Linked DNA regions of Homo sapiens. The protein of the gene in region 3 purifies or fractionates together with the protein of the main gene of each other region. This does not show direct contact. Each region holds a gene or a part of one and is shown on either strand. Other genes may lie near its edges.

The links.
Region 1: the proteins of TMEM68 (region 3) and GSTA1 purify together in Homo sapiens (affinity purification with mass spectrometry; one large-scale study listed by BioGRID and IntAct). This does not show direct contact.
Region 2: the proteins of TMEM68 (region 3) and CUX1 purify together in Homo sapiens (affinity purification with mass spectrometry; one large-scale study listed by BioGRID and IntAct). This does not show direct contact.
Region 4: the proteins of TMEM68 (region 3) and MTMR3 purify together in Homo sapiens (affinity purification with mass spectrometry; one large-scale study listed by BioGRID and IntAct). This does not show direct contact.
Region 5: the proteins of TMEM68 (region 3) and TMEM63B purify together in Homo sapiens (affinity purification with mass spectrometry; one large-scale study listed by BioGRID and IntAct). This does not show direct contact.
Region 6: the proteins of TMEM68 (region 3) and MTMR4 purify together in Homo sapiens (affinity purification with mass spectrometry; one large-scale study listed by BioGRID and IntAct). This does not show direct contact.

Annotation. Positions count from the first base shown.
Region 1 is NC_000006.12:52,793,032-52,798,288, reverse strand, and holds part of GSTA1 (glutathione S-transferase A1), read left to right. Parts: intron 1-651; coding exon 652-703; intron 704-1,974; coding exon 1,975-2,107; intron 2,108-4,022; coding exon 4,023-4,164; intron 4,165-5,257. UniProt on the Homo sapiens protein: Glutathione S-transferase that catalyzes the nucleophilic attack of the sulfur atom of glutathione on the electrophilic groups of a wide range of exogenous and endogenous compounds.
Region 2 is NC_000007.14:102,194,120-102,199,376, forward strand, and holds part of CUX1 (Homeobox protein cut-like 1), read left to right. Parts: exon of another isoform or gene 1-86; intron 87-1,387; coding exon 1,388-1,484; intron 1,485-2,514; coding exon 2,515-3,186; intron 3,187-4,682; coding exon 4,683-4,748; intron 4,749-5,257. UniProt on the Homo sapiens protein: May be involved in intra-Golgi retrograde transport.
Region 3 is NC_000008.11:55,748,443-55,753,699, forward strand, and holds part of TMEM68 (DGAT1/2-independent enzyme synthesizing storage lipids), read right to left. Parts: intron 2,716-5,257; coding exon 2,522-2,715; intron 1-2,521. UniProt on the Homo sapiens protein: Catalytic subunit of the alternative triglyceride biosynthesis pathway, which mediates formation of triacylglycerol from diacylglycerol and membrane phospholipids.
Region 4 is NC_000022.11:30,020,917-30,026,173, reverse strand, and holds part of MTMR3 (phosphatidylinositol-3,5-bisphosphate 3-phosphatase MTMR3), read right to left. Parts: intron 4,146-5,257; coding exon 4,035-4,145; intron 3,566-4,034; coding exon 3,477-3,565; intron 2,718-3,476; coding exon of another isoform or gene 2,691-2,717; intron 545-2,690; coding exon 373-544; 3' UTR 1-372. UniProt on the Homo sapiens protein: Lipid phosphatase that specifically dephosphorylates the D-3 position of phosphatidylinositol 3-phosphate and phosphatidylinositol 3,5-bisphosphate, generating phosphatidylinositol and phosphatidylinositol 5-phosphate.
Region 5 is NC_000006.12:44,151,534-44,154,172, forward strand, and holds part of TMEM63B (mechanosensitive cation channel TMEM63B), read left to right. Parts: intron 1-312; coding exon 313-475; intron 476-1,059; coding exon 1,060-1,165; intron 1,166-2,142; coding exon 2,143-2,310; exon of another isoform or gene 2,311-2,444; intron 2,445-2,539; coding exon 2,540-2,639. UniProt on the Homo sapiens protein: Mechanosensitive cation channel with low conductance and high activation threshold. Osmosensitive cation channel preferentially activated by hypotonic stress.
Region 6 is NC_000017.11:58,500,157-58,505,413, forward strand, and holds part of MTMR4 (phosphatidylinositol-3,5-bisphosphate 3-phosphatase MTMR4), read right to left. Parts: intron 4,819-5,257; coding exon 4,623-4,818; intron 4,333-4,622; coding exon 4,147-4,332; intron 4,065-4,146; coding exon 3,894-4,064; intron 3,743-3,893; coding exon 3,588-3,742; intron 1-3,587. UniProt on the Homo sapiens protein: Lipid phosphatase that specifically dephosphorylates the D-3 position of phosphatidylinositol 3-phosphate and phosphatidylinositol 3,5-bisphosphate, generating phosphatidylinositol and phosphatidylinositol 5-phosphate.

The DNA.
Region 1 (5,257 bases), on a different chromosome or scaffold from region 3:
CAATGCCACAAAACCACATCAGAAACCAGAGGTTTTCCTTAAAAATAATGCTAGTGTGGGACCCTAATTCCTTTATTAAATTGAGAATTTTACCCTATTGTGCCTCGTACTTCAGAAGAGAAAATTACAGTTGCAAGTGTGAAAGCTGTGCAACAGTGGCGACCTATTTCACACTTAGCAGGGTTCCTGAGAAGTGGGGCGATACAAATTACAGCAGAGGCTCCTTGGTGGCAAAATGTTTGATAGCCATTAGCCCATGGCATGCCTCATGCTGGGGACACACAAGGTTGTGGTCTGATCTCACTTGGAGACACAGGCTTTCCTAAGATATGACAACACCATAACTAGAAGAACTGCTCAGTGCCTTTTCTCCAGTGATGTCCCCCTCAAAATATGACCTAATCATAGACATTCATATCAGGGTGGAGTTGAAGTGAACTAAAAGATTTAGCAGCTATGTGCTGTGACCCATGCACTTTTCTCAATGAATTAGGTCTAAATTTCCAAATGGCCATGACCAGCCCCCTCTGTGTACCCTGCCAAACTCAGAAATCTTGTATTCTCCAAATGATGCACCAGATGGGGCCATTCAAGGCCACAGTCTATAATAGAATGAACTAACAAGAACGTATTTACTGTTTCTGCTTCCAGTTTGAAGAGAAATTTATAAAATCTGCAGAAGATTTGGACAAGTTAAGAAATGGTAAGATCAATCTCTAAGTTCCTCTGATGAGGGTATCTAGTAGAAGGTACACGGGGAGGTTTGCGCAGCCGGCAATGTCTATGGGTGTGGGGCATGGTATTTGTACATGGTGCAGAGGGAGAAAGTGGTTAAAATGGAAGGGATGTGGCTCCTTGAGCAAGTCTGGCAACTCTCTCCAGGTTAAAAGGACCAGACCTCTCAGAGTATTTGCTAGAGGAACAATCTCCCACCGCTGAGAAAGCCCTTTCTTTGTTTTCATGCTTGGGGCACCATGAATGAGTGGTGGTCATCAGCACAGGATCCCATACAGCCCTCCCCATCCAAGCACATGCAAGAACATGCATTAGACAAAAGGAGGAGGAATAGATGTGGCCACTGTCTTGAGTTTTTTCTTTCATGGGGGGAGTGGGACTGGGTAACACTGTAGCAATATCGCAGACTTTGAAGAGCACAGAAAGGGACCCTTACATAAAAACCTCTCAGAACCTGCCTTAAATGTCACAACACCATGAGACTTACTCTGGGAACTTCCTGTTTTAAATGGCATCTTGTTGCCAGTCCTATTGTAACTTGTCCCAACCTCTTCCTAAAATATCCATGAAGATAAATCAACACAAAAAATACAAGAGTCCCACTATGTATCTGGAGGGGCAATAAAAACATATATGAAATAAATGGATAAAAAGTAAAAGGAAACTTCTTAAGAAAAAGAAGAACTACAGGAAGCTTTTTAAAAATGTTGTTTGGACTGGGTGCAGTGGCTCATGCCTGTAATCCCAGTTTGGGAGGCTGAGGTGGGTAGATCATTTCAGTTCAGGAATTTGAGACCAGTTTGGCCAACATGGTGAGACCCTATTGCTTGTAAAAATACAAAAATTAGCCATGTGCACTGGTGCATGGCTGTAATCCCAGCTATTGGGAGGCTGAGGTAGGAGAGTCACTTGAACCTGGGAGGCAGAAGTTACAGTGAGCCAAGATCATGCCACTCCACTCCAGCCTGGGTGACAGAATGATACTCTGCCAAAAAAAAAAAAAAAAAAAATATATATATATATACACACACACACACACACACACACACACACACACACACACATATATATATATATATATATATATATATATATATAGTTTTTGTTTCAAGTGAAATCTTACCAGGCAGTAATTTCTTTGCCATTTTACAAATTTAGTCATTTCCACAACCATTTGTTCATCCCAAAAGGGTGGGTTTCATAGACACTTCACTCTCCTTTTTTTTCTTCCTTCTAAAGATGGATATTTGATGTTCCAGCAAGTGCCAATGGTTGAGATTGATGGGATGAAGCTGGTGCAGACCAGAGCCATTCTCAACTACATTGCCAGCAAATACAACCTCTATGGGAAAGACATAAAGGAGAGAGCCCTGTACGGTATATTTTCTGTTCTTCCATCCACAGAGAACACAGAGTGATTTAGGTCCTTCCTTGAGTGGGTGGGACGATGGCAGGGCATCATGACCAGCAGCAGGCTGGGCCTTGGGCATGTACGCTGAGGTCCAGTATTGCAGAGTCCCATGGAGATGAGGGAACAGTGAACATGGGGAGGGTTCAGGCAAGGGTGATTCTAGAAGAGGATGCAGTCCATGGATCCAGCACCTCACGGTAATTTCCAAACACGGATGAACCATGAACTGAGGAGGATGGGGAATCATGATTCCAGGTGCTCAGGACTTCAGAGGCTCGACTCTGGCCAACAGTTTAGGACAGGCATAGAATATGTGAGAGTCTGTAGATGAAGGACTGGGGAGGGAAAGTTGCAAAGACGCCAAAGCTAAGGTCCCAGTAATTCCAAGAATGATGACCGGGAACCTAAATTACCAACCAAGTATATCAACTGGAATACTTGAGCAGGGCTAGTAGAGGCTGGCACCAAGGATGCTGGGGTTACCTTGACACATGGATAGAAGCACAAAACAGCCAGATTGATTCAATACCAGCAAAACCAAGGGGTCTCCTTGCTGTTGTGATGAGACTGCATGATTCCAAATAAATCCTGAATGAAACTGCTGGCAGCTCCTCAAAAACTTTAATATAGTATTACCAATGACCCAGCAGTTCCTCTAACAGGTATATCCCCAAATAATCGAAAATACATCCACACTATATATTTTACATAAATAAATAATGCGAATAACAATATTCATAGAATTCAAAAAGTGGAAACAACTCAAATATCCATCAATCAATAAATGAAGGAGAAAAATGTGCCTTAGCCATGCAATGGAAAGATATTTGGTCATGAAAAGGAATGAAGTACTAATGCATGCTATAAGACAGTTAAGCCATAAGACATGTTACATAAAAGAAACAAGACACAGAAGGCCACATATTATAGGATTCTTTTTGTATGAAATGTCCAGATAGTCAAATCCATAGAGGTAGAAAGTAGATTAGTGCTTGCCTGGAGCTAAAGGAGTGGGGCTTGGAGAAAAAAGAATACTGCTAATGGTACAGGTGTCCTTATCAGGGCGACAAAAATAATTCTGCAATTAGACTGTGGTTATTTTTACAGATTTCTGTGAGTGCACTAAAAACCACTCAATAGTATAATATACCTGGTGGCAATTATAGTATGTGAATATGCATCAATAAAGTTCTTGTTTTAAAAAGTATTGTGAAACTCCAGTTTGACACAAAAGAAGAAAAGTTTGCACTGGTTGTAACTGTATAGAGAATTTCACCAGGGAAGGGGATTCTTAGGTGGGGTCTCAGGAAAGGCACACATGGCTAGAGTTGCGCAACAGCACATGGAAAGGGCTGTGGAAATGTGTTTCATGGGTGTAATTGAAAGAACTGCAAATATGGGGCATAGAAGCAGCCCTGGGAGCTGTAAAATGATGAGAGAGGACAAGGAATATGGCTGACATGGCTGTGCCAGGGACTCTCTTAGGATTACTTAGGAAGCAGGTCTTTGGCCATTTGACTCACACTAAGTTCATGCACAGAACAAACCACAATGGAGATGATAAATCTTGGCACAGCATCAGTGGGTACTGGCAGTGATTCTGCCAATTTCTCTCATGACTGTGACCACCGACGTTCTTTTTACCTGTATTAGGTCATGTGTGTAACAAAATTTAGAGATCTATCTACCTTGATAGGTTAAGAGATAAATGTTAATATACCTGTAAAACTCAGAGCATAATGACTAGACTATAAAAGGCACCCACTGGAGGTGAATTATTTTGCCATCACCTGATACTCTACTCCCTTAGGTTTTTATAAACCTATAAAATCTAAGGCAAAAGGTATTTGACCATTTGGTTGTTTCTGTCTTTCAGGATTGATATGTATATAGAAGGTATAGCAGATTTGGGTGAAATGATCCTCCTTCTGCCCGTATGTCCACCTGAGGAAAAAGATGCCAAGCTTGCCTTGATCAAAGAGAAAATAAAAAATCGCTACTTCCCTGCCTTTGAAAAAGTAAGTGAAGCAGTTCAGTGTTTTGGGGAACTGAGTTTAGAGGCCAATAGAAAAATAGTGGCTGGGCATTCCTGGGTCACTGATCTTCACTTTCAGTGAGACTTCCTGAACACCAATGCAGCACTCTGACTCTCAAGGCATTTTATGAAAATAGACTTGGAGAAACAATTGTATCATTTATACCCAAGCTATACTTTTCCAGTAAAATTTTAATTTACTGGACCCCAACATGGAATTACCTGTTCAACAAGATTTCATGTTCATAAGTAGAATGTGGGCTCTGGACCACACTAGAGGTTGCTGTTGAGTCTATGGAACCCCATGGACTTTGACTGAACAGGGGCATGATGAAAGCGATCCATCAGAAAATATTCTGGCACCATATGCAGGAAGATAGGAGACCAATTGCCCAACCAGAGAATACTGTAGCGTTTCAGGGATGGGTATTTTTTAAAAGGAGAGTGATTGTGGGATGCAGAGGAAGATTTTTTAAAATGGATTTTAGAGTAAGTTGCAGACATCAGTGCAGTTCACCCGTAAACGCTTCAGCTTGCAGATTATAACATAGTGCCAGTTGGGAGTGAGAGTCAATGCTGTAAGAAAGATGAATTCAGGTTCACCCAGGTTTCCTACAGATCCCAGGGAGATAGAGCAGGGAATGAGGAGAGCAGACAAAGAGAAATGAGGACTCTGAAATAGTCTCCTCCTGGGGAAGAGTGTTGTCATGAAGGTGGAGTCACTGCCCAAGGGAGATTGGAGAGGGAGAGAGCAGAATGTAGAGCCACATCCTGAATGTGAGGGCTCCACGCTGTAGGGCCTGGGGCAGACAGAACACATGGAGGCAGGTGCTAAGCCCCTGGCCCATGTGGAAGAAGCAAGCTGCGTGGGTGGTGTAGATGCCACAGTGATGTAGAATGAGAAGAGAAAATGGGAGCCTGAGCTACAACTGAGGAGTGAGTAGAGTTACAGTTCTTACTCTCTCATTCATTCAGATAATGTGGAGAAAGCTCTGGATTTCTGCACCCATGCAGTAAGGCAACAGAGGTGGGGAAAGTCAGGGTGGAGAGGCTCCGAAAGAAGCAGGGGTCCTAGC
Region 2 (5,257 bases), on a different chromosome or scaffold from region 3:
TGGGGATGAACAAGGGATTGCTTCATCCCTGACTGATAGGAGATGGGCACTACCAAAAAGCAAATTATCTTTAACAAAAAGAGGCAAAAAGAGAAAAGCTAGTGTTTTCCAAACTGGTAACTGAAGTGAAATTGTGATTTCACTTCAGCAGGTACTAAGAACATAAATAAAAAACAATTTCAGATTGTGTTTAAGAAGGCCAGGCTCAGTAGCTCATGCCTGTAATCCCAGCACTTTGGGAGGCCAAGACAGGAGGATCGCTTTGAGGCCAGGAATTTGAGACCAGCCTGGGCAATATAGCAAGACCATGTTGCTATTAAAAAAAAAAAAAATAGCCAAGTACTGTGACATATACCCGTGGTCCCAGCTACTTGGGAGGCTGAGGCAGGAAGATCGCTTGAGCCCAGTAGTTCAAGGCTATAGTGAGCTATGATCGCACCACTGCACTCCAGCCTGGACAACAGATTGAGACTGACTATTTTTTTTTTAATTGCATTAAAGAGCAGCCAAAAATGGATTGGTTTAGGAACTTTAGTTACATGCTGCCTCAGTAGAGAAGGTACAAGGGAAGGATGACTGTGGCCCAGGGTCATCTGGTGGCCAATTAAAATTGACATCCCAGACCAAGCATGGTGGCTCACTCCTGTAATCCCAGCACTTTGGGAGGCTGAGGTAGGTGGATCACTTGAGGTCAGGCATTTGAGACCAGCCTGGCCAATATGGTGAAACCCTATCTCTGCCAAAAATATAAAAAATTAGCTGAGCGTGGTGGCGCACGTCTGTAATCCCAGCTACTTGGGAGGCTGAGGAAGGAGAATCACTTGAACCCAGGAGCCAGAGGGTACAGTGAGCCAAGATCATGCCACTGCACTCCAGCCTGGGCGACAGAGTGAGACTCCATCTCAAAAAATTAAAAAATCAAATCAAATAAAATTGACATCCTAAGTGGAATCTGACTCCTGATGCCCAGAAGACAGCCAACATCTTTGTGGCTGGCAAAAAAAAAAAAAAAAGAAAAGTTCCCTTTACAGTAACGTTCGGACAGACGTTTGTGGCTTGGCAGCCAGTCTTATGGCCAAATGAGGCACGGGCTCAGGTCGCTTGAGTTTGAGAACAGATGAGAGAATAATTAATTTTTTTAGGAGCTGTGGAAGTCTAAGAAGGAAAATGACTTCAACTAGAATCCATTCTTTCTAAAGGGAACTTGTTTTCCACGTGTGTTAAACGACTTGGGGGGAAATCAGCTGTCCGCAGCCCACTTCCTAATCAGATCGAGAGCTGGGTGGGAACGCGGACAGATGGAGGGAGGCAGGGCTCCAGGCCTGGTGGCCCCGGGAGCGGGTGAGTGGCCGGCCCCGCAGTGAGACCCCCGCTCTGCCCCTTCTAGGATGCGGCCAAGCCCCTGGAGGTGCTGTTGCTGGAGAAGAACCGCTCGCTGCAGTCCGAGAACGCCGCGCTGCGCATCTCCAACAGCGACCTGAGCGGTAGGTTGGCCGGGCTTCGCGCGTGTGCGGTGGTTGGTTCGCTTCCAGGGGTCGGTCGAGGACGAGGAAGGTGAATCGTGAGTCTGGACAGATGCATGGCCAGAGAAGCGCCGGTTGACGAGAACCTTTGACTAACGCGTGTTGGGTGCCCTCCTCCTCACCGCTCCTCCCTTCCCTTCCCCGCCCTGCTTAAAGCTGGATGTCGAGACGGGCCAGCCGCACAGGCTCTGCGGAGGTCAGTTAGGGGCAGTGCGGCTGGAATCCCCGGGAGGGACAGCTCGGAGGACGTCGGCCTTTCTGATCTGTGTCTGGTTGTGCTGCACAGAGGCCAGGGGCAGTGTGAACCCAGCCTCGCTCTGGTGGTGTTTTCAGGGACAGCCCCGGGCCTGCCGGGTCCAGTAGAGGTTTTTCTTCCTTGGTCAGGTTTCCCCTGGGGACGCGTCCCCCATCCTTAGCCTTTCTTGGCTCATCCCCCAAATGGTGGCGTCACTTGACTGTGCTTCTGGTTTGGGCAGCTGGTAAAACGCGTACAGGTGTCTCGGGCTCTAATGGTATTGCATTCTCAAAACGGGCGCGCGCCTCCACATCGAGGGGGCTCGGTACGGTGCATCGCCTCAGAGCAAGAGGTGCGAGCGAATCCATTGGTCCTAAAATGTCAGTGTTTGCTGCTCCTCCGGCCGGGGCCAGCGGGCCCAGTAAGAGGCCCGCGACCCGTCAACTCTTCCCTGTGTGTGTCACCAGCTCCTTGTCACGCTAGGAGTTTGAGTCTATGTCAAGGGGACTCTCCAGGCTGCAACGTACAAGAAAGGCGCAAACATGAATGCATGTTGCTTGTTTTGGGAAGCCTCGTTTGGCTGACTTACAAATTTAATCGGAAAACAAACCAACCCACCTCATTGGCCCTTGTAAAAAAAACCTGCACTTTTTTTTGTTTTCCCTTTTGCGGGGGCAAACTTTTGCATTTTGGTCTTGGTTTTTTTTTCCCCCTTTGGAATCCCCCATAATGCATTCTGTTTGCCCTTCCTTGTAGGGTCAGCCAGGAGGAAAGGGAAAGACCAGCCTGAAAGTCGGCGCCCGGGATCTTTGCCGGCCCCCCCTCCTTCTCAGTTGCCCCGCAACCCGGGGGAGCAGGCTTCCAATACTAATGGTACACACCAGTTCTCACCAGCGGGGTTAAGTCAAGACTTTTTCAGCTCATCCCTGGCAAGCCCCAGCCTACCCCTGGCTTCTACAGGAAAATTTGCACTAAACTCTCTTCTCCAGCGGCAGCTAATGCAGTCCTTCTACTCCAAGGCTATGCAGGAAGCCGGAAGCACAAGCATGATTTTTTCAACAGGTCCATACAGCACAAACTCCATATCTTCCCAAAGTCCATTACAACAAAGCCCAGATGTCAATGGCATGGCCCCATCCCCCAGCCAGTCAGAAAGTGCTGGGAGCGTCTCCGAGGGCGAGGAGATGGACACTGCAGAAATCGCCCGGCAGGTCAAAGAGCAGCTGATTAAGCACAATATCGGACAACGTATTTTCGGACATTATGTGTTGGGACTGTCTCAAGGGTCCGTGAGCGAGATTCTGGCCCGGCCCAAGCCATGGAATAAACTGACTGTTCGTGGCAAGGAGCCATTTCACAAGATGAAACAGTTCCTCTCCGATGAGCAGAACATCCTGGCCCTCCGTAGCATCCAAGGCAGACAAAGAGGTGAGAGACTGGCGTTGGGTGGCGCCAGCGTGCGAGCCCGTCACAGAGTTGCACATGTGTGTGTGCATGCGTGCGTGTGTCTGTGTGCGTGATGAAACATTTGTGCATCACATCAGGTAAAGTTCTCTTTGCTTCTGCCACGTCCAGAGCTCAAGGGTGGCCCGGCATGAGTTAAGGCTGTTAGATTTGGGAGATCTGGCCTTTGAAACGCACTCAGCACTCCATACTTAGGAAACCCTATAGTATTTCAATACTAGAGATCGTATCAGAGGGAATTGCATTACATGATGTATAGCGTCTCCGTATGCTTAGTGGCCGCGGGTCCAATTGGCCTTGGGTGCTGGTCTCACTTTTGGGAGGAGCCCTTAAGTCCCCTCCAGCCCCATAGCAGCAACGTTGACTGGGCTCGATCCTCATGCAAAGCTGGTTCTGTAGGGAGAACACATCACAGATGACACCTCCCCTCTTCCCACCCCGCAGAAGAGGGCGTGTCCCATGGCCACCTTCCCTACATTGTTCACGGTCCATTAGTGATTTGTTTAGCATTATGAGTAAAACAGGCCTGGCTTGAGTAAAATACACAAAAGTTTTATTTAAGCACCCTTTCTACCCCACCCTCCGTAAAAAGATAAAATGTCAGTCACATTCATAATTTCAAAAAATCCCAGCCGGGCACAGTAGCTCACGCCTATAATTCCAGCAGTTTGGGAGGCTGAGGTGGATGGATCGCTTGAGTCCAGGAGTTCAAGACCAGCCTGGGCAACATATATTTTGTAATCTTTTGATCTACAAAAAAATCAAAAGGTTAGCTGGGCGTGGTGGCGTGTACCTGTGGTCCCAGCTACTTGAGAGGCTAAGGCAGGAGGATGGCTTGAGCCCAGGAGGTGGAGGCTGCAGTGAGCCATGATTGAGCCACTGCACTCCAGTCTGGGCAACAGAGTGAGAACCTGCCTCAAATAAAAAAACAAAAAAGAAAGTTCCTTTTCTGTTTAAGACCAGGGGATCAATGTGCCACATCAACAGAGCTATTGAGAGGTCATTTCATCAGACATGTTTGAAACACCCTGAAATTTAGACTCAAACAGAGCAGGGAGATGTTTTGAACAGCATCAATTTGCACCAAGAAAATGCAGTGTTTTATGAGGATGTTAACCGAAATTGAATGTCTTTGGATGATTAATGCGAGCTTTGTTCTGGGGGCTGGCGGGTGATCCTCCTTCAAGGCAGTCCTCCCTCCCATGGACCTCCCTGGCCTCAATGCCGTAGGTCGCTACTTAGATTTCCCCCATCTCCTTTTGCAGCAGAGCCACGGCCTCTGCGGGCCGGTCAGCCAGGGAAGGGCCTCTCAGAAGATTCTAGAAACTCCCGAGTTGCACAGGCAGCCCTGAGCCCTTTCTTTAGTGACAGGCGGCTCAGATTTCATGTCACACAGCCCATATCGTCAACACCACCATTCCCCTGATTGTTTTGTTCTTACCACACTTGTTTTTCAACAGAGAATCCAGGCCAGAGCCTGAACAGACTATTTCAGGAAGTACCGAAACGAAGAAATGGGTCTGAAGGTATGTTGCAGGCAGGCGTTTTCTTTGCAGTCAGTCACCTAGGGAAGCAGCATGTCCTTAGCTGTGTATTTGGGTTAAAACTGTGCAGTGTGATTCTGGCCTGGAACCTGATGGAAAAACAGCTAGTAAGTATAAAACAAGGCACGGGTTCAAGCACACCCAGCCCCTTCCTCCCGAGCTGCCTGCCCTCTCCCAAGCACAGGCGGGGGTGAGAAGAGGCATTGCTAAGCTAAGCCCCCCGAGTCTGAATCCCAGCCCACTTCAGATCCTAATTACCCGGTCCCCCGTTTTTCTCAGACGCAGTTGAAAAAATAACAGCGGTTGCTCTGAGAAAAGTCAGGTGACCCGTCAAATTAAATACTGCTGCTTCCTCGTATTTTTAACTCGGAAACACACTCAAGGTCCTATGGAACGGACGCATCCCACATCGTCCCGGTGGCATACTTGTTTTTAAATGGTGGTATACTTGTTTTGAATGCAGTGGTTCCTATTTAGGAAGGTAGTAAGAA
Region 3 (5,257 bases):
ATGCATACTTTGTACATGAAGGAGTTGCATCAGCAACCTAGAATTCAATTGCTTACATATATAAATGTGTGTCTGTATGTAATGTATGTGCATGCATGTGTGCAAGGGAGAGAGGGAGGGAGGGGAGGGAGGAAGGGGGGGAGAGAGAGAGAGAGAATATATATGTATAATTTTTTTATTTTTTGAAGCAGAGCCTTACTGTCGCCCAAGCTGGAACACAATGGTGCGATCTCGGCTCACTGCAACCTCTGCCTCCCAGGCTCCAGTCATCCTCCAACCTCAGCCATCTGAGTAGCTAAGACCATGCCCAGCTAATTTTTGTACTTTTAGCAGAGATGAGGTTTCACCATGTTGCCCAGGCTGGTCTCGAACTCCTGGCCTCAAGTGATCCTCCTGCCTTGGCCTCCGAAAGTGCTGGGATGACAGGCATGAACCCACATGTCCAGCTGAGAATGTACATTTTTAAAAACTATTACTGGGGTCTTGACATCTTAACTCTGTCACTAAAAATGTGGGAGACATTGTGAAAGTTACTTACCATGTTTAAGCCTCACTTTCTTCATGCATCAAATGGGAATAAATAATAATTATCTCTATCTCAAAGTTTTTATGGATAAAGTGAGATAATTCATATAATTTTATTGAAACAAAATATTTTCTTTTATATCTGCTATTTACTTTACAATTACAGTAAATGGACTAGTTATCTCCTCAACTTATGTAGACATGAAGTTATCTAAAAGTTCTTACCAAAGTTGTAAGTCTCAAGAATTCACAAACCAGGGTGATTTGTATTATATCAAAAAGTCTGTCACTTTCGAATAAACCTTAATATTTTCTACCAATATTTTGTGAACTTGCCTTGACAATCAGGCTTTTTCCCCTTTAATTTCTATTACTATGTTACAATTTAAATGTGGTTAATCCTGTAACAATAGCCTTAAATTTTGTTCACAGCTTATAATTTTGTGAGGCCTATTAAGGGATTTTCCAGAGGGGATACTTGTGCCACTTACAACTATACATATATACACATATATATTACTGAAAGACTTCCCTCACGTATCTGGGAAGCCCCTTCAGTCTTAGACGTCAGCAGACTCACTGTGCAATGTAGTCAGGAATGGCAACAGTACCGGTTGCCTCGAGTTCTGAACTGTGTGCTCTGCTCTACTGCTGCCTTGCTGAATGACCAGATCCCTTCCATCCCTCCATCTCTCTGTGCCTGAGTCTCCTCATCTGCAACATTGGAATAATTATATGCATCACCTCCTTACTGAATAGGAGTATAAGATAAAGTGTTTAAAAGTGCTATGAGATGTTGGGGTGGCACAATATTTATCAAACTTATAAGATTTCTGTTTGTTTTTAAACTTATAAAAAGGTATTTCTTAAACTTTCTAAAGTTTTATATAAAAATCTCAATTAAATTATCTAGTTTATTTAAATTAATTATCTGGAAACTCGAGGATTAGAAAGAGTTATTTTCTCTGCATCATTTATCTCTTTCAGTCCTTCTTCCAAGCAATATGTTGCCGAAAATGTAAACTTAAGGATGAGGAATTGGAATCCCATGGCATATTTATGTGATTTTAAATCTATTTTTGTCATCTTTATCTTAAACTTTTGAAAAAACAATTCTTTCAAAATATAAACTTGAAAGTTGAACCATCTTTGATTAGGATTTTAGTTTTTATCATTGTTTTCATATACATTATATTGATTATTCTTAATTTTTGTATAACTGCATATATCCTTTTGTATTCTATATTATTCATATAGTCTAGGTTTTTGTTTTCTATGTCAGTGCTTAAGACTGGGAAATAAGTAAAATGTGCCATAATTCATTTTCTATACAACTAAAAAACTAAGTTACTGACAATATTCTCTAACTGGCCTGGAAAAAGAACAATACTCTATCAAACGTAATTTCTTTTTCTGACAATCAGAATTAAAATAAACAGAAAACGAAGCAGAAACTTTCCATAGGTAATAGATAAGTGTTTCATAGGCTAAAGTACAATATGGAGACCAAAAGGCTGAGAAATACTTTCCGAAGGCAAAGTAAAAGAACAAAATGACATTCAAATTCTCCAGTCTTTTTTTTTTTTTTTTCTGAGACAGTCTCACTCTGTCACCCAGGCTGGAGTGCAGTGGTGCGATCTCAGCTCACTGCAACCACTACCTCCTGGGTTCAAGCAATTCTCCTCCCTCAGCCTCCCGAGTAGCTGGGATTACAGGCATGCACCACCATGCCTGGCTAATTTTTGTATTTTTAGTACAGATGGGGTTTCATCATGTTGGCCAGGCTGGTCTCAAACTCCTGACCTCATGATACATCCACCTCGGCCTCCCAAAGTGCTGAGATTACAGGCGTGAGCTACCACACTCGGCCTACATACTAATTTTTAAGGTATTGCAGCGAAAGTGTCTAAGTTCTTATACAATTTGGCTCATTACTTAACCATTTATTTTAAATTTGACTAAGCTTTACTTCAATAATTAATTTTATATAACTCACCACTTTTGCATCAATTGCAACCTGAGCAAAGCCTCTGCGATGACCCCATACGATGTTATAAGTTTCATCACTAATTAGGGCTTCTCGAACTCCACCTGGTGAGATAGCTAACAAGTGGCCACTCCTCAGAATTTCAACACATTTTTCTCTTGGTCCATGTAGAGCACAAAACACATCCAGTAATAAACTAAACCCTGTAAGAAACATGAGTATGAAGTTACAACATAAGTATTTCTTGTTTAATTCTTCAAAAGAAAAATCTTCACAAACTACATAGTGTACTATTTATACTTAAATCAGTAAACTTTTTTACTTGTTAAAATCAACAAAAACTCTAAAGGTTAACTTAAGCTTGATATTAAGCTTCTCTGGCTCAAATTCTTAAGTAAAACTCACAACAATCTTGACAAACAGGTATTCTTCTCCCCACTTTACAAATGAGAAAACTTGGGCTTACAGAATAATAGCTTGCTCAAAGTCACACATCTAAGAAGTGGCAGGGCAGAGATTCCAGAGATAGGATTCTAATGGGATTCAGAAATGATATCCCATCAGCAATCAGAAATCTAATCTTCCATTAACCCTATAAAAAAGAGAATCACTCAGGAGAATGTGAATCAAACTACGCTTAGCTCTTCCAAAACTGGCAAGACCATGATCAAATCTATTTAAATTAAAAGTTAGATAATGCTAATTCTATAATTAAATTTTTAAAATAGCAAACATCATTAAGAGATTTTAATAAAGTGAGAGTGCTTGACTCAAGAGCAGCTAATTCCAAGTCTTAATATTATACAGCTTTTCAAATTACAACTGTTTATGGATGAAAGAAATAATCCTGTTAGTAATTAAATATTTTAATCAAATCCCATACTGGAACTTCTGAGGACTGATGTTAGTATACATTATTCCCTGAGAATGGGAAATATAGCGATGCATTTGATGTTAAAAACTACGCAGACTGGTCAGGCACGGTGGCTCACGCCTGTAATACCAGCACTTTGGGAGAAAGAGGCAGGTGGATCACTTGCGGTCAGGAGTTCAAGACCAGCCTGGCCAATGTGGTGAAACCCTGCCTCTACTAAAAATACAAAAATCAGCCTGGCATGGTGGCACGTGCCTGTAATCCAGCTACTCAGGAGGCTGGGGCAGGAGAATGGCTTCAACTCAGGAGGGGGAGGTTGCAGTGAGCCAAAATTGTGTCACTGCACTGCAGCCTGGGCAACAGAGCAAGACTCTGTCTCAAAGAAAAAAAACAAAAAACACTATGCAGACCAACCAAACTTCTCATTAAAGATCTGAGGCAAGTTTATAAATAGCATTAAGATTAAAATAATTGTCAGACCGGGTGTGGTGGTTCACACCTGTAATCCCAGCACTTTGGGAAGATGAGCGGGCAGACCACCTGAGGTCAGGAGTTTGAGACCAGCCTGGCCAACATGGCAAAACCCCATCTCTACTAAAAATACAAAAATTAGCCGGGCATGGTGGCGCACGCTTGTAATCCCAGCTACTCAGGAGGCTGAGGCAGGGAGAATTGCTTTAACCCGTGAGGCGGAGGTTGCAGTGAGCAAAGATCAAGCCACTGCACTCCAACCTGGGCAACAGAGCAAGACTGTCTCAAAAAAAGTAAAAGAAAAGAAAATAATTGTCACCCCACATTATATTAAATGTTCACTGATTCAACTAGATGCATTCTCATAATGAATGAATGAACAGGGAAGGATTCATACATAATAGGATAAAATATAGGATCCCTTTTTTTTTTTTTTTTTTTTGGAAACAGGGCCTTGCTCTGTCACCCAGGCTGGAATGCAGGGGCACAATAGTAGCTCACTACGGCCTTGCTCTACTGGGCTCAAGCGATCCTCTCACTCAGCCTCCCAAGTAGCTGAGACTCCAGGCACTGTGCCACCATGCCTGGCTGATTTTTTTATTTTTATTTTTAGCAGAAACGAGGTCTTGCTATGTTGCCCAGGGTGGTTTCAATCTTCTGAGCTCCAGCAATCCTACTGCCTTAGCCTCACCAAGTGCTGGAATTACAGGTGTGAGCCATGGCACCCACCCTAAAATCTCTCTTGTGCTGAGAATTATAATGATTTTATTCCTTCAGAAAGCAAAGAAAGACTTAAGGTCTTAGTGTCTTAAGGTCTTTAATGATCTTTATGATCATTAAAAAGATCATAAAGAGGAAAATTTTTTGAAAAAGGCAAATGCTAAAAATATTCACATTTTATTATTGCTAAAAACGAAAAAAGTAGAAGCAACCTAATGCTCCATTAGAGAAAAACAGTTAAGTAAATGTTCTAGTCATACACTAAACGTTTTTCTTATAAAACATGGTAAAAATATTAATGCTAACATTAAATCTTAAAAAAAAACCCCACAAAACTGTTTGCCTATGTTACTGTAAGTAAAAAAATGAAGTAAAATAAATCAAAATGAAAACATTATGTTAAGATGGTAAGATTATAATGATGTTCTGTTTTTTAGTTTCCAAATCTACTATAGTGATCATGTTAGTTTTTAACAGAAAACATAGCCATAAACAATATGTTTATACACAAATGGCTTTTTAGTGACACATGGATACCCAAAGCATTAACTGTTTATAGGCACTGAAGTAGATCATTACTTAATTCACTGTTTGGTTGTGTTTGTCTGGTTGATGTGTCAGCTTTTGCTTTTATACCAGAGAACATACTAACAACTCTCTTGGCTTGTTTCTGGTGATTC
Region 4 (5,257 bases), on a different chromosome or scaffold from region 3:
TGGCTCTGACCACCATCCTCCCACCCGGAAGAAACAAGCCATCCCTCAGTGTCACGTGACAGCAGGCAGCTCGGCAGTTACAGTGGGCCTGGCAACCCTTGGTCTTCCATCAAAAAAAAAAAAAATTAAGACAACCAAGGGAAAGTTTCCTTTTTTGAAGGCAGAGGAGGAGGATGGAAAAGGTAGGGAGGGAGTAGGGGGACAGGAAAGAAAAATCAATCTACAATCCAGTGGTGCATCCCAAATCTGTCACTCTGTACAGGTGGTTCCACGCTCCCATTCCAAAGTGCACGGGCCTCTCGGTCTGCCCAGGTTGAGTGGGCCTGTCATAGGAACAGCAGCTTGGCCACTGCCCACCCAGGTCACTGAGCTTCAGTTGGAAGTGGCAGCAATGGGCTTATCCAGTTCAAGGTCAATGCTGGAGCTTGTGGGATGTAGGCTGCTATAGCAAGACTTGCATACTCGACTGGGTTCAAAGAGCTGCTGGCTGGGAACTGGAACCTTCTGGTTACAACAACTGGAGCAGAATACGTTCCCACAATTCCTTGAGATGAGAAGAAACAGAACAATGTTAGTTTTGGCCAGCAGGTATGCGGAGGGAAACCAACTTCAAAAGACAAACTTTGCCGTGTGTAATTTGCATGTGCTGGAGCTCCTTGAGATCAAACCCTTTCATCTCTCTAGCCCAGGAACAAGCTGGGTAGGGAGGGTGTCCCTACCTAGCAGAGTCACATGTCATTTTCACTTTGGGGCCAAGGATTCTTGGCTGCCTCACCACTGACTCAAAAGAATGCTGCTCAGGTATACAAAAGAATGCTGCTCAAGAGAGATCTGTAAGAATACATGGTCCTAACAATGGGTTAGTCCTGATCCAGGAAAACCCAGTGGCCACACCCACCTAGGCAATGCCCTCTGTGTAGCTTGTGATCACAGAGGCCAGGCTCCTCAAACGAGAGAAACAACTACCCAGCCTCACTGGGGAGTAAGGAGCCTTGCCCAACGGCCACTTCTCCAGAGGATCAAAGGCAGCAACATGGCAGATAGACTGCTGCCATTTTGGACTGCTCTGCTGGCAGCATGCAAAGCCAGGGACAAGTAGCCTGTGATGCATGCTCAGAGGGTGAAAGAGGAGAGGTGGGAGGACAAGAACACAGGATGAACACACGTGCACACACACCCCCTTATTAGATAGGTGTCAGTCAATTATGGCTCACTCCCCGACCCATGCATCTCCAGGGAAAACCAGAGTTCTACCAGAAGGCCAGAATGCACTCAGGCCCCAGGCATCCCTCTCCTCCTCCCCTGAAAGCTGGGTTCTGAGGCATCTGTGCAGCACAGTTCTGCACCCCCAGATGGATGCCCATCAGAGCCAACAGGAAAGGGAATTGGCAAAGAATGAGTTTCTGCCCACCTTACAACTCTACTTTTGCTGGGCCCTGAGGTACAAATCAATCCTAATGAGCCTAAGAACAAGAAGCTCCAAGGAGCCTGACACAGCCCACCAAAGACTGGGGGAGGGCAGCTTCTTAGCCTTCTAACTTTTCATTTATGCTGTTCGGAATGCAAACCCACTGCTGGATTAAGGATCACTTAGGCACAGGAGGAGAGAAGACTAAGACCAGTTGGGAACAAAAGAATACCACAAAAGGAAAAGGTGGGACATGGGGCAATGGAAAGACAGAAAAGAAAAACACAAAATTCATCTTCTAGAATGCTGTACTTCGTAACTAGTTCTAAAAAGCGTGAGTCAGCAAAAACCTGTAGTTACACAGAAAAATTTCTGAACATCTACACTTCTTTAACATTCCTGCTGGAGTTCAGCTCAAAAGCCTGACATGAATTTGATGCTTTTCTTTCTTTTCTTTACTTTTTCGAGATGGGAGTTTTGCTCTTATTGCCCAGGCTGGAGTGCAATGGTGCGATCTTGGCTCACTGCAACCTCCGCCTCCCAGGTTCAAGAGATTCTCTTCTCCTGCCTCAGCCTCCCAAGGAGCTGGGATTACAGGCGTGCACCACCATGCCCAGCTAATTTTGTATTTTTAGTAAAGATGGAGTTACACAATGTTGGTCGGGCTGGTCTTGAACTCCTGACCTCAGGTGATCTGCCATCCTCGGCCTCCCAAAGTGCTAGGATTATAGGCGTAAGCCACCGCACCTGGCTGATGCTTTTCTATCTGACTTCTTTCAGAGGACCCTGAAAGACACTAAGTGGAATCTTTCCTTGAAGTCTTCCAAGCTAAAACAATTCTCTGGAAAGATCACCTCTGTTCAGTCCTGGTCTCTTAAAAAAAAAAAAAAAAGGGAAAAAAGAAGCAGTGATGCTGTTTGACCTGGAAATTACTAGCATTATTCTGGCATCTCAATGAATCACTGACCCAAAATAAATAGCTCTGAAAACCCAACTGGTTCCCCTACAAGACCAGAAGACAAGAAGCACTACTTCTCGTCACAAGCAAGACGGCCTGGCTGACCTCTGTGATCAGGAGGGGAGCACATGGCTGCAGCCTGACCCACCCTCGATGGCCTCTCCTCAGCTGCTTTGAATCCCCTCAAGCCCACCTATCTGCCTGTGCACCCAAGGCCCCAGGCTTCACCCTAGTAAGTGCAGAGAGGGGGAAATGATAAGAGTTAGTGTGGAGAAGTTATTGTAGATGTGCAGACATCACAGGCAGGTTGTTGCAAATGCTCACCACGTTTGATCAACACGGTCAGTGTCCCTGCAAGGAGGGGAGAAAGAGCTCAGAAGAGAAGCCAACCAAAGATATCTGGGCTTGGGGTGCAGGGTGGGGAGATACATGTCCTAGAAGCATCATTACTAGGCAAAGAGACTGTTCCATTTTCAATCCACCCACTCGTGTGGGTGAGCTATGGCATGATTCAGATAAACTTCCTCTTCTAAGAACACTGAACATCCACCAGACAGTCAACACCCTAGCTGGGGCAAAGGGTCCCTAGTAAACTCACTACCCTAACCCAGAAGGAAAAAGAAGTCAGGAACCTTAATGATTGGAAGACTGTCCTCAGCTGTCTCTACTACTTCCCAAGCTACAGCTGCTCACCAATGGCACAAGGGAAAACAAGTGTGGGGTCAGGGAGCAGGAAAGGAATAGGAAAATAGTTCCCTCCCCATCGCAGGAAAACTGGTTTTGCTCATAGTAGCCATGTTGAATGGGAAGAAATGTTATGCTGAGAATAAGAAATGGTGGTTTCAGTGGTGGCTGTTGTTTCACCAATCTGGGAAACAACAAAATGCTACCATTTGCACATTTCAGAATTTAACAGTGATTACTCTGAATTTGAACAAAGATGCCAAATGCAGTTTTGCAAACACCAATTTCAGAGGCACAGGAAGATGAGACCATGGCTCTGCCTCAGACAGAACACTGAGATACCCACAACCCTCTACTCTGCAGGCTCTGTGGGCCGACCCTCAACCTCCACACACAGCCCACCCTACCACAGCCCCTCAATGGTACCTGCAGTGGTGCTTCCTGCTGGCAAGCCAGAAGGCACTGTCGCACGCATAGCAGTGGGCGGCCAGGTGGTCAGGAAGCCAACGGGTCATCTGCAAAACAGATGGGACCAGGTTACTGACAGGAGATGGGCCATCCAGCTGGAGCCAGCAGAGCCATGCTGGGGGCAGCAAGAGTCACAAGGACCACATCAGCTCCAGTGGCACCAGCCCAGCAGATCTGATGTCAACAGTACAAGAAAGGCGTCCAAATCGTTTCCCTGGAGGGGACTCCAATCTCCCCTGAGATAAAGTAGCAGGCAGCAGCACCCTGGGTCACTGTGAGAGCTGGCAAGGCTCCAGTTCATAGAGGCAATGAAGAGGGAGGGCCAGCTTGCTGAGTCTCCCTGGCTCAGAAATCCTAGGCTTCATGTGGGTTCCCAGGAGCTAAGGTGCCAGAGGCTCAGGGCTAGCTGTGCTGGGAGGTGCTTCCTTGGCCAGGGGTATGGGGTGGGAATGGGGGTGGAGAAGAACCACAAAACAGTTAAATTGATGGCACTCAGAGCAGGGGCTGAGCCTGTACCTCTGTGTCCTGTTTATCCACCTGCTCCCAGCTGGCTTCAGAGAAAATCTCTGTGCTGCAGCGAGACAAACAGTTCTGATCCAGATTGCTTTCCGAGTCGGGGATTGAAGTCTGTTGGCAAACAAACACAGCTGAACAGAATGAACCTGGTCTCCTCCCAAAAGAAGAAAAGGCCTGGTGAAGAAGGGAGAACTGAGGACTCTGGGTGGGGCCGAGTGCTAGGACTGCCGAATCTGCAGATGCATCAGCCATCAAGAACTGGGGTGAAGAAGTGCAGTGTGGGCCTGGGCTCAGCTGGGAGAGGGATACACAGGTTGTGTGCAGTGACTCTGGAGTAGAAAAACAGGCCCTCAGGGTTCCAGAAAGTGAGTGAGAGGGAAGTGACCAAAATGGAATGAGAATTCTGTATGTCAGCTGCTCCAGTGGGCCTGTCAATCCAACCCTGCCTGCCACTAAGTTAAAGCTGAGTGCTTTCGGGATGCCCTCCTTTTCTTAGAAGGACTCTCTGGGAACATGAGAAACTATCATTAGCATGAAGGAAAAGCCAAGTCACTCTGAACTGAAAGTCACTGGATGTGCCCGCCTTTAATGTACGCTGACCACTTGAGAGCCAGGCTCACACTTGTACTTGAGCTGCCTGAGTCAAGTCCACCCAGAGAGGAAAGCACCTCCTTGAGAACCTCCCCCTCTGGAACCCCCATTTCCAGCCACAAACCCCCATCAGAGCTAACTCCTCAACAGTGCTAGAAACCAGTCCCTTCTCTCCATTTCTACTGGCAGCATCTGCCACAGGATGGGTATAAATATTTGTTTAAAAAGAACTGAACCTTCAAAGCCATAGCCCACGTCTGGAAGGACTAATACTTTGTAGTTACTAAGGCAGAACAGGCACTAAAATCTGACAGGAATAACTTGGCATTGCCCTACAGATGTCATTCTGCCCATGGGTTCAAGCCCTTCTGAAGACTTATGATCCTGTGTCTGAGAGATCTGATCAACCATGCAGTGCATGCTAAGTCTCTTCCTCTCCAACGGCCTCAACAGGACATCTGCAGAAAGTAAGCGAAGCAGAAAACAGGCAGGCTGCCATCGCTGTCGTGGAGGCTCATCTCCAGCCTCTCTTAACAGGGCTACTCTGGACCTTTCCAATCCTTTAACAACCTGTACCAATCACCATGCACTGGGCACAAAGGGCACCCAGCCTCAGCATGCCGTCTCCTTGG
Region 5 (2,639 bases), on a different chromosome or scaffold from region 3:
TTCTTTGAGGGTCTCATTGGGTTGTCTTTGGGGGTCCTGGACAGTTCTCCCCTGAACATTCTAGCAGCCTTAGGTGGTCTTGAGCACTCTCTCCATGGGTCTTTATGGGGCACAAGTTCTTGGAGCTGTCTGTTGCCACTCTGTATGTCTCTGGGGGGAACAGGGCACAGGTGCTTGGGGCGCTAAGCTGGGGGTGTCCACATGGAAGAAGCATGTTGGTGGTGGAGGTGTTGGGTGCTGTAGTTCTGGCAGTGGGCGGGCGGCCACCGGGTCACCCCAAGGGTGCAGTGCTGGAGCACCTGGTGCCCGCAGGTGTGTGTTCCTGCCCGACAACGGCGCCTTCTTCGTGAACTACGTCATTGCCTCAGCCTTTATCGGCAACGCCATGGACCTGCTGCGCATCCCAGGCCTGCTCATGTACATGATCCGGCTCTGCCTGGCGCGCTCGGCCGCCGAGAGGCGCAACGTGAAGCGGGTACGGCCGCCTGGGGCAGCAGCGGCCCGCACAGCGCCCCCTGGTGGCCCAACAAGAAACAGCAGCCATCGCGCTAGGGTTGAGGGGCACAGGAGGGCTGAGACTTGGGGAGTACAGTTGACTCACGGTGGATCCGGGCCATCCCCTTCCCATATCTGGGGCCTTCGTATTCTGCCATGGGTGGACATAGGTAACCCTGAAGGCCCCTGCCAGTTCTGACAGTAGCATTCTATGATGGGAGTTGGGGAGATCTGGGTCCCTAGCGCTAGGGTCCCTCTGTCTTAATAAGAGGGCTCTGGGCATCCCACTCTCAAGTCCACCCAACTCTTGCCCCCTACCTGCCAGGCCCCGACCCTTGAAGGCCCCTCTCCGTGCCCCATCACTGCAACCGCCCTGACCCTCCTCTCGGCCATAGCCCCTCTCTCCATCTGCTCTGCCCTACCCTACCCTAGACATTAGGTCCTGTTCCCCATGGCTTCTTTTCCGGCCCCAGAGGTCCTGGCTCCCTTCCCCCTCCCTCCTTCCCTGCCCCTCTGGTCAGTCCCTGCCTCCCTGAGCCATCCTCCTGCCCGTCTCCCCCCCAGCATCAGGCCTACGAGTTCCAGTTTGGCGCAGCCTACGCCTGGATGATGTGCGTCTTCACGGTGGTCATGACCTACAGTATCACCTGCCCCATCATCGTGCCCTTCGGTAGGCACCGCCGCGCCGGGACCTGGGCCCTGCTCGGGGGGACCCAGGACTTCACCCTCTCCACTCTAGGAATGCAGGCCACCCCGAGTGGACAGGGCCCGGCTGGGAGACCGGCCCCTCGGGGCTCCCGCCCGGTCCCTGGCTCAGTCTGGGGCCTGGCCTGTGGGGAGGAGGGGGAGAGCCATCAGCTCAGGCCAGACCCAGCTGGCATGTGGGCCCCAGGGCAAAGTCACACCAACATGGCCATACTTACCCACACCTGTGCCTTCCCTCAGCGGGATGTGCTTGGACACAGATCACATACGTGCTGACATGTTCACACACACACTCCCACACAGGCATCCATGTGCACACTTTTACACCACCCTGTAAACTCAGGAAAGACTTGGATTCCAGGGTGGGATGGGTCCTTGCCACTCATGGAGATAGTCTGCTGTATCTGAGCTATGTGACTTGGCCAGGTCTCTCTTCCTTTTTGAAGTTTAGCAAAGTTTCTCTTTAACCATCACCCCCACTGGTAGCCTCTACTTTCCTCCCTAATAACATCCTAACTCCTTAACCAACCCTCCCTGGTTATTGAAGGCTCCAAGTTCCCAAACTAACTTCCTTGTCCTCATTAGAAACTCCCTATCCCTCAGCCTCTGGGGAAATAGAACTTGTCCCTTAATTTATACGTATCTGTTTAGGGACAGGGTTAGAGAAAAATGATACGGGTTTTAAGAAGATGCTTGTTGATTCAAATGACTAGATTTCCAATAGTAGAATTCCTGATGAGGAGAGTAGAATGAGGGGTTGTAGCGGAGGAAGCTGAAGTTCTGTGATCACGCTGGGGCACGGGGCACTATCCCGTCCTGGGGCCCGGGCAGGAGGAGGGGGCCAACCCTTCAGCACTCTCAGGACCAGAACAACCTGTGACAGACACACAAAAGGTTCGGCAGCACTGGTTCCGAGGTCAGGGCCCATGTGGCTTCCCTTAGGGCTCATGTACATGCTGCTGAAGCACCTGGTAGACAGGTACAATCTCTACTACGCCTACCTGCCGGCCAAGCTGGACAAGAAGATCCACTCGGGGGCTGTGAACCAGGTGGTGGCCGCGCCCATCCTCTGCCTCTTCTGGCTGCTCTTCTTTTCCACCATGCGCACGGGTGAGGGATCCCTACCCAGGGAACGGGGGGTGGCGAGCAGAGTGGATTCCAGCCAGAGCAGGCCACAGGAGAAGCCGCATGGCTGGGGGTGGCAGGCAAGGGGCCTGGGAGAGGCTGGGGCCAGTCTGTAGCACCTGGGAGAGTGAGGACTGCATTCAGAGGGTATCAGAAGCTGGGGTGGGGAGGCCCACAGGAGATAGCAACCCCATTCTTTGCCCCCCAACACCAGGGTTCCTAGCTCCCACGTCTATGTTCACATTTGTGGTCCTGGTCATCACCATCGTCATCTGTCTCTGCCACGTCTGCTTTGGACACTTCAAATACCTCAG
Region 6 (5,257 bases), on a different chromosome or scaffold from region 3:
CGCTGTGTCACCCAGGCTGGAGTGCAATGGCATGATCACAGCTCACTGCAGCCTCAACCTGCTGGGAGCAAACAATCCTCCTACGTCAGCCCTCCAAGTAGCTGGGACCACAGGCGCACGCCACCATGCCTGGCTAATTTTTGCATTTTTTGTAGAGGTGGGGTTCTACCATGTTGCCCAGGTTGGTCTCAAACTCCTGGGCTCAAGCAATCTGCGCACCTTGGCCTCCCAAAGTGCTGGGATTACAGGCATGAGCCACTGCACCCAGCCTGAACTACACACATTCTTATCTGCTTAGATGTTGACTTAGAATTGTTCTCTAGTTGGCCGGGTCTGGTAATCCCAGCACTTTGGGAGGCCGAGGCGGGTAGATTACGAGGTCAAGAGATCGAGACCATCCTGGCCAACATGGTGAAACCCCGTCTCTACTAAAAATACAAAAAACTAGCCAGGTGTGGTGGTGGGCACCTGTAGTCCCAGATACTCGGGAGGCTGAGACAGAAGAATCACTTGAACCCGGGAGGCGGAGGTTGCAGTGAGCCAAGATTGCGCCACTGCACTCCAACCGGTGACAGAGCGAGATTCTGTCTCAAAAAAAAAAAAAAAAAAAAAAAAGAATTGCTCTCTCTAGTTGTTCTGTGTCTTATCTTACAGCTTAAAATTATCTTGAAAGTAGAACCAATATCTTCTATTTCTTTGCTGTAGCCCACAAAACCTAGTACAGTAATACGCAACTTGTAGGTATTAAAGAAACATTTGTTGAATTGATAAATCAGATACTAAGTTAATGAAATGATTATTAAATGGGTCACAGAGCTTATTAAAAATTTGATTAAAAGTTATGGCCCCTCTCCCAGGAAAAGTAAACCTATGAACCTGTAGCCAAATTCTGCATAGTTTGGGGAAGGAAAAAAAAAATCACTGAAATCCTGAAACCTATCACGGTCCCCTCACAATGACTTAGTTCAAAAGACCCTAAAACCAATAATTTGGGATGCTGGGCTTTTTGTTTTCCTTTATAATATTCAACCAATAACATATGTTATATTTTAACTTTAAAAACTTTCAGCCAGGCTGGGCATGGTGGCTCACACCTGTAATTCCAGTGTTTTGGGAGGCCAAGGCAGGAAGATCACTCGACGCCAGGAATTTAAGACTAACCTGGGCAACAGACCCGTCTCTACAAAAAATAAAAATTGGCACATGCCTAATGAGCTAATTAGCTACCTGGGAGGCTGAAACAGAAGGATTACCTGAGGTCAGGAGTTTGAGGTTACTATAATTGTGCCACTGCACCCAGCCTGAGTGACAGAACAAGACCCTGTCTCTAAAAAACAAAAAAGCTCTCAGCCAATAAACAAATATCAAAATTTGAGATATATATACACATATATACACGTATATATGTATATATGTGTGTATATATATAGTATACATATATACACACATATATGTATATGTCTATGTATATACGTATACATGTATATATGTATACGGATATATATACATATATGTGTATATATATATACGCGTATATATGTATATATATCCTTTGAGCACAGTATTTTCATTCAAAAATACTAGCACAAATGCAAAAATATGCATACAAAGTAACCCTACTGGCCAGGCGCAGGAGCTCACACCTGTAATCCCAACACTTTGGGAGGCCGAGATGGTGGATAACTTGAGGTCAGGAGTTCAAGACCAGTGTGACCAACATGGTAAAACCCCGTCTCTACTACAAATACAAAAATTAGCTGGGCATGGTGGCGCATGCCTGTAATCCCAGCTACTCGAGAGGCTGGGGCAGGAGAATCACCTGAACCCGGGAGGCAGAGGTTGCAGTGAGCTGAGATTGTGCCACTGCAGTCCAGCCTGGGCAACAGAGCGAAACTCTGTCAAAAACAAAAAAACAAAACAAAAAAAAAACACACAAAGTAACCCTACTAAACTATGTACTTAAAAATGGTGTAGATGGTAAATAGCATGTGTATTTTACAATTTTTTTTTTTTTTTTTTGAGATGGAGTCTCACTCTATTGCCCAGGCTGGAGTGCGTGGCGTGATCTTGGCTTACTGCAATCTCCACCCCCCCAGATTCAAGCGATTCTTATGCCTCAGCCTCCTGAGTAGATGGGATTACAGGTGCCTGCCACCATGCCCGGCTAATTTTTGTATTTTTAGTAGAGACAGGGTTTCACCATGTTGGCCAGGCTGGCCTTGAACTCCTGACCTCAAGTGATCCACCTGCCTCGGCCTCCCAAAGTGCTGGGATTACAGGCATGAGCCACCGTGCCCAGCCTGTAATTTACAAATTTTTAAAAAGCTACACATATAAGGATGTAAAGCACTCCCTGTAATGATAAAAAAAAAAAAAATGGAAATTACCTAAATGATGAGTAGGAATCTGGTTATATAAATTGTGGACTACTCTGAAGCCAATAAAAACAAGAAAGGGAATTTAGATGTGCTGTCATGAGAAGACAACCTAATACAAAGCGGGAAAAACAATTTGCAGAATATGCAAAAAAGTAAAAAGCGTATGTAAAAATATTCTGATTTTGTTTATAAAAAATGTTTCCATATGAAAGCGTGAGTGTGGATTTACCTATGTAGAGATAAACATTTGGAAAGACACGTACCAAATGTTAGCAGTGGACACCTGTGGGGACAAGGATCATAAGGGAAGATTTTCATTTTCTACTTTTATATTGACTATTTTTTTAAAACAAGAAATAGGTATTACTCTCATAAATTAACCAACATCATCTCACTTCTCCCCAAACATTGAGCCAGAAGATACCTAATTTTATGTCTCCCTTTTAAATTCTGGCCTTTTTCTGAGGGAGTAATATAAGGCCATCCTCCTGCTGGGAACCCATTTCCCTGAGAGTCAGATGTTTCTGGAAGCTAATGCTGGACACAACAAAGGTTGCTACTAATATAGCAAGCTCCCCATGCCCTGTACCAGTGAACAAAAATCAAGACCATTCCCACAAACCTTCCTAAAACAGTCCTTTCTGTTTTGTTCTCTCCCCTGCTTGGGTATATCATACAGAGTGATAGCAGCTCCTCCAGGAAAGAAAGTATCCAACCTTATCTTCAGAGGACCTTGAAAACACACAGAGTGCACTCCAGGCTAGCTACAAGTCTTGGCCAAGTTTTTCCTGCAAATGACTCAAGAAGTTGCTTTTAAATACCTCAGAAAGAGGCCGGGCACGGTGGCTCACGCCTGTAATCCCATCACTTTGGGAGGCCGAGGCAGGTGGATCATTTGAGGTCAGGAGTTTGAGACCAGCCTGGCCAACATGGTGAAACCCCATCTCTACTAAAAATACAAAAAATTGGCTGGGCGTGGTGGTCGGTGCCTGTAATCCAAGCTACTCGGGAGGCTGGGGCAGGAGAATCAGTTGAACCCGGGAAGTGGAGGTTGCAGTGAGCCAAGATTGCACCACTGGCACTCCACCCTGGGCGACAAAGTGAGATTCCGTCTCAAAAAAAAGAAAGAAAGAGAACATTTAGATGAGATGGGAAACAGTTACTGCCTTCCTAGTGGAGAGAGGAGAAAGGAAGAAGGGCTTTTCTTACCTGTCCAGAGAGCGGCCAGAGAACTCCTGGCTCTGGGCCACTGGGGAAAGGTAAAGATCCATGTTTTCTTCCCCAAGTGTGCATGGAGATGATGCTGGCAGATAAACAGCTGTCCAGAGGTGCAGGGCCCGGACATGACAAACAGGATGCAGGACCTAGGGAAGCAGCCCAATACTAGTGCTTTGTCAAGAGTTCCTTGTCCTTTTTCTTTCCCTAAGCCCTTGACTCTACATTTTCCCTACTGACTCAGCTGCTTCTCCCTATAGGTTTCTAAATAGCACCTACAGGAAAAGGGCTCAGACTCACCATGTCTGAGCTGGGTGTGTAGAGGAAGTTATGAAAGTTTTTATTGCCAGCTCGAAGGAGCGCCCACACAGAGCAGGTCCGCTTGTAGATGTTGCGCTTCTCTCGCTCACAGGGGTTGTTGGCCAGGAAGGTGCCGTAGAGGCAGGAGTATGTGTGTTGCACCAGTTTTACCTAGAAAGCAGAGAGAGCTTGCACCTGGGGGCCTCGGGCTGTCATTCCCCCCATCCCTGTTGTCACAGGCCTTAGGACTTACCAGGAATGCTTCATTAAATTCAAACAGGCAGGGGAACTGCTTAAGCAACTGATGAACAGAATCAAGCCACTGGAGGAACACAGGGCATTGTTCGTTTTGGTCCTCCACATTCTCTTGGTGGCCACAGCGATCTCCAAACTTGTGCCCAAAATCCAGCCAGTCAGACTCCACTAACACTTGGAAGCCCTGCAAAAAAAGAAACTGTTCAAACATAGGGCCTCTCTGGAAATGCTGATGTGCTACTCCCCTGGGAACTGCCCAAAGCAGGAAGCTGGCAGCTTCAAAGAAAAATAGGACTGGACCTAGAAGAGGACTCAAAGCCACCAATTTTCCAAGCCTTTGGGAGTTGGAAAAAAAAAGAAAAAAAGAGCCACCAATGTCCTCTACTGAAAGATCCCCAGGACAGATCCAGAGGGCTCAACACCTTCCCTCCTGCCACATTCCTTCTGGTTTTCCCACCGAATTCCTCTCAATACCTCCAACGTCCTGTAATATGGGTCCAGTAATATTTTGGCCAGGGCTACGATCTGCGGTGTGCGGTCCCAGCCATCTGAGCAGTGTACCAGCACAGGCCGGCCTTCCCGGTCTACTGTATTAGCCACCAGCACAGCTGCTTTTAGCATCACCGACAAGTGCTGCAGCCATTTGGTACTCTCCAGTGCCGACAACCAGCTACACAAAAGCAGACATCAAGTCGGTCACAAAGGGTGCTGAGGCCACAGCAGTCTCTCCACCATCCACAGCCAGCCCCACCCAACAAAGTCCCCATTGAGAACTGAAACCAAGAGGTACAACCCAGGGCCTTTTGGACAAGAGGTATCTAGCAGGAAGGTAGGGAAGACAGGACCTACAGCAGATAAAAGCATCTGAAGCTCAAAAGAGGAACTGAGAAGCATCACATGCACACTCAGCCATTTCCTCTCCCCAGTTCTCTGTGTTCTTTGAGTAGAACAACTGATCCAAACGAAAGGAATCCATGTCCTGTGACCACGCCAAAGTGTTGGCTGAGAAGTGGAAGGGTTCTTGGAACTAGCCCACGGCACCCAACTCCACCCAGGCCCTCAGGTCTCCTGCTCTCCAAACTTCTCATCTCCCCATCTAATCTTCCAAG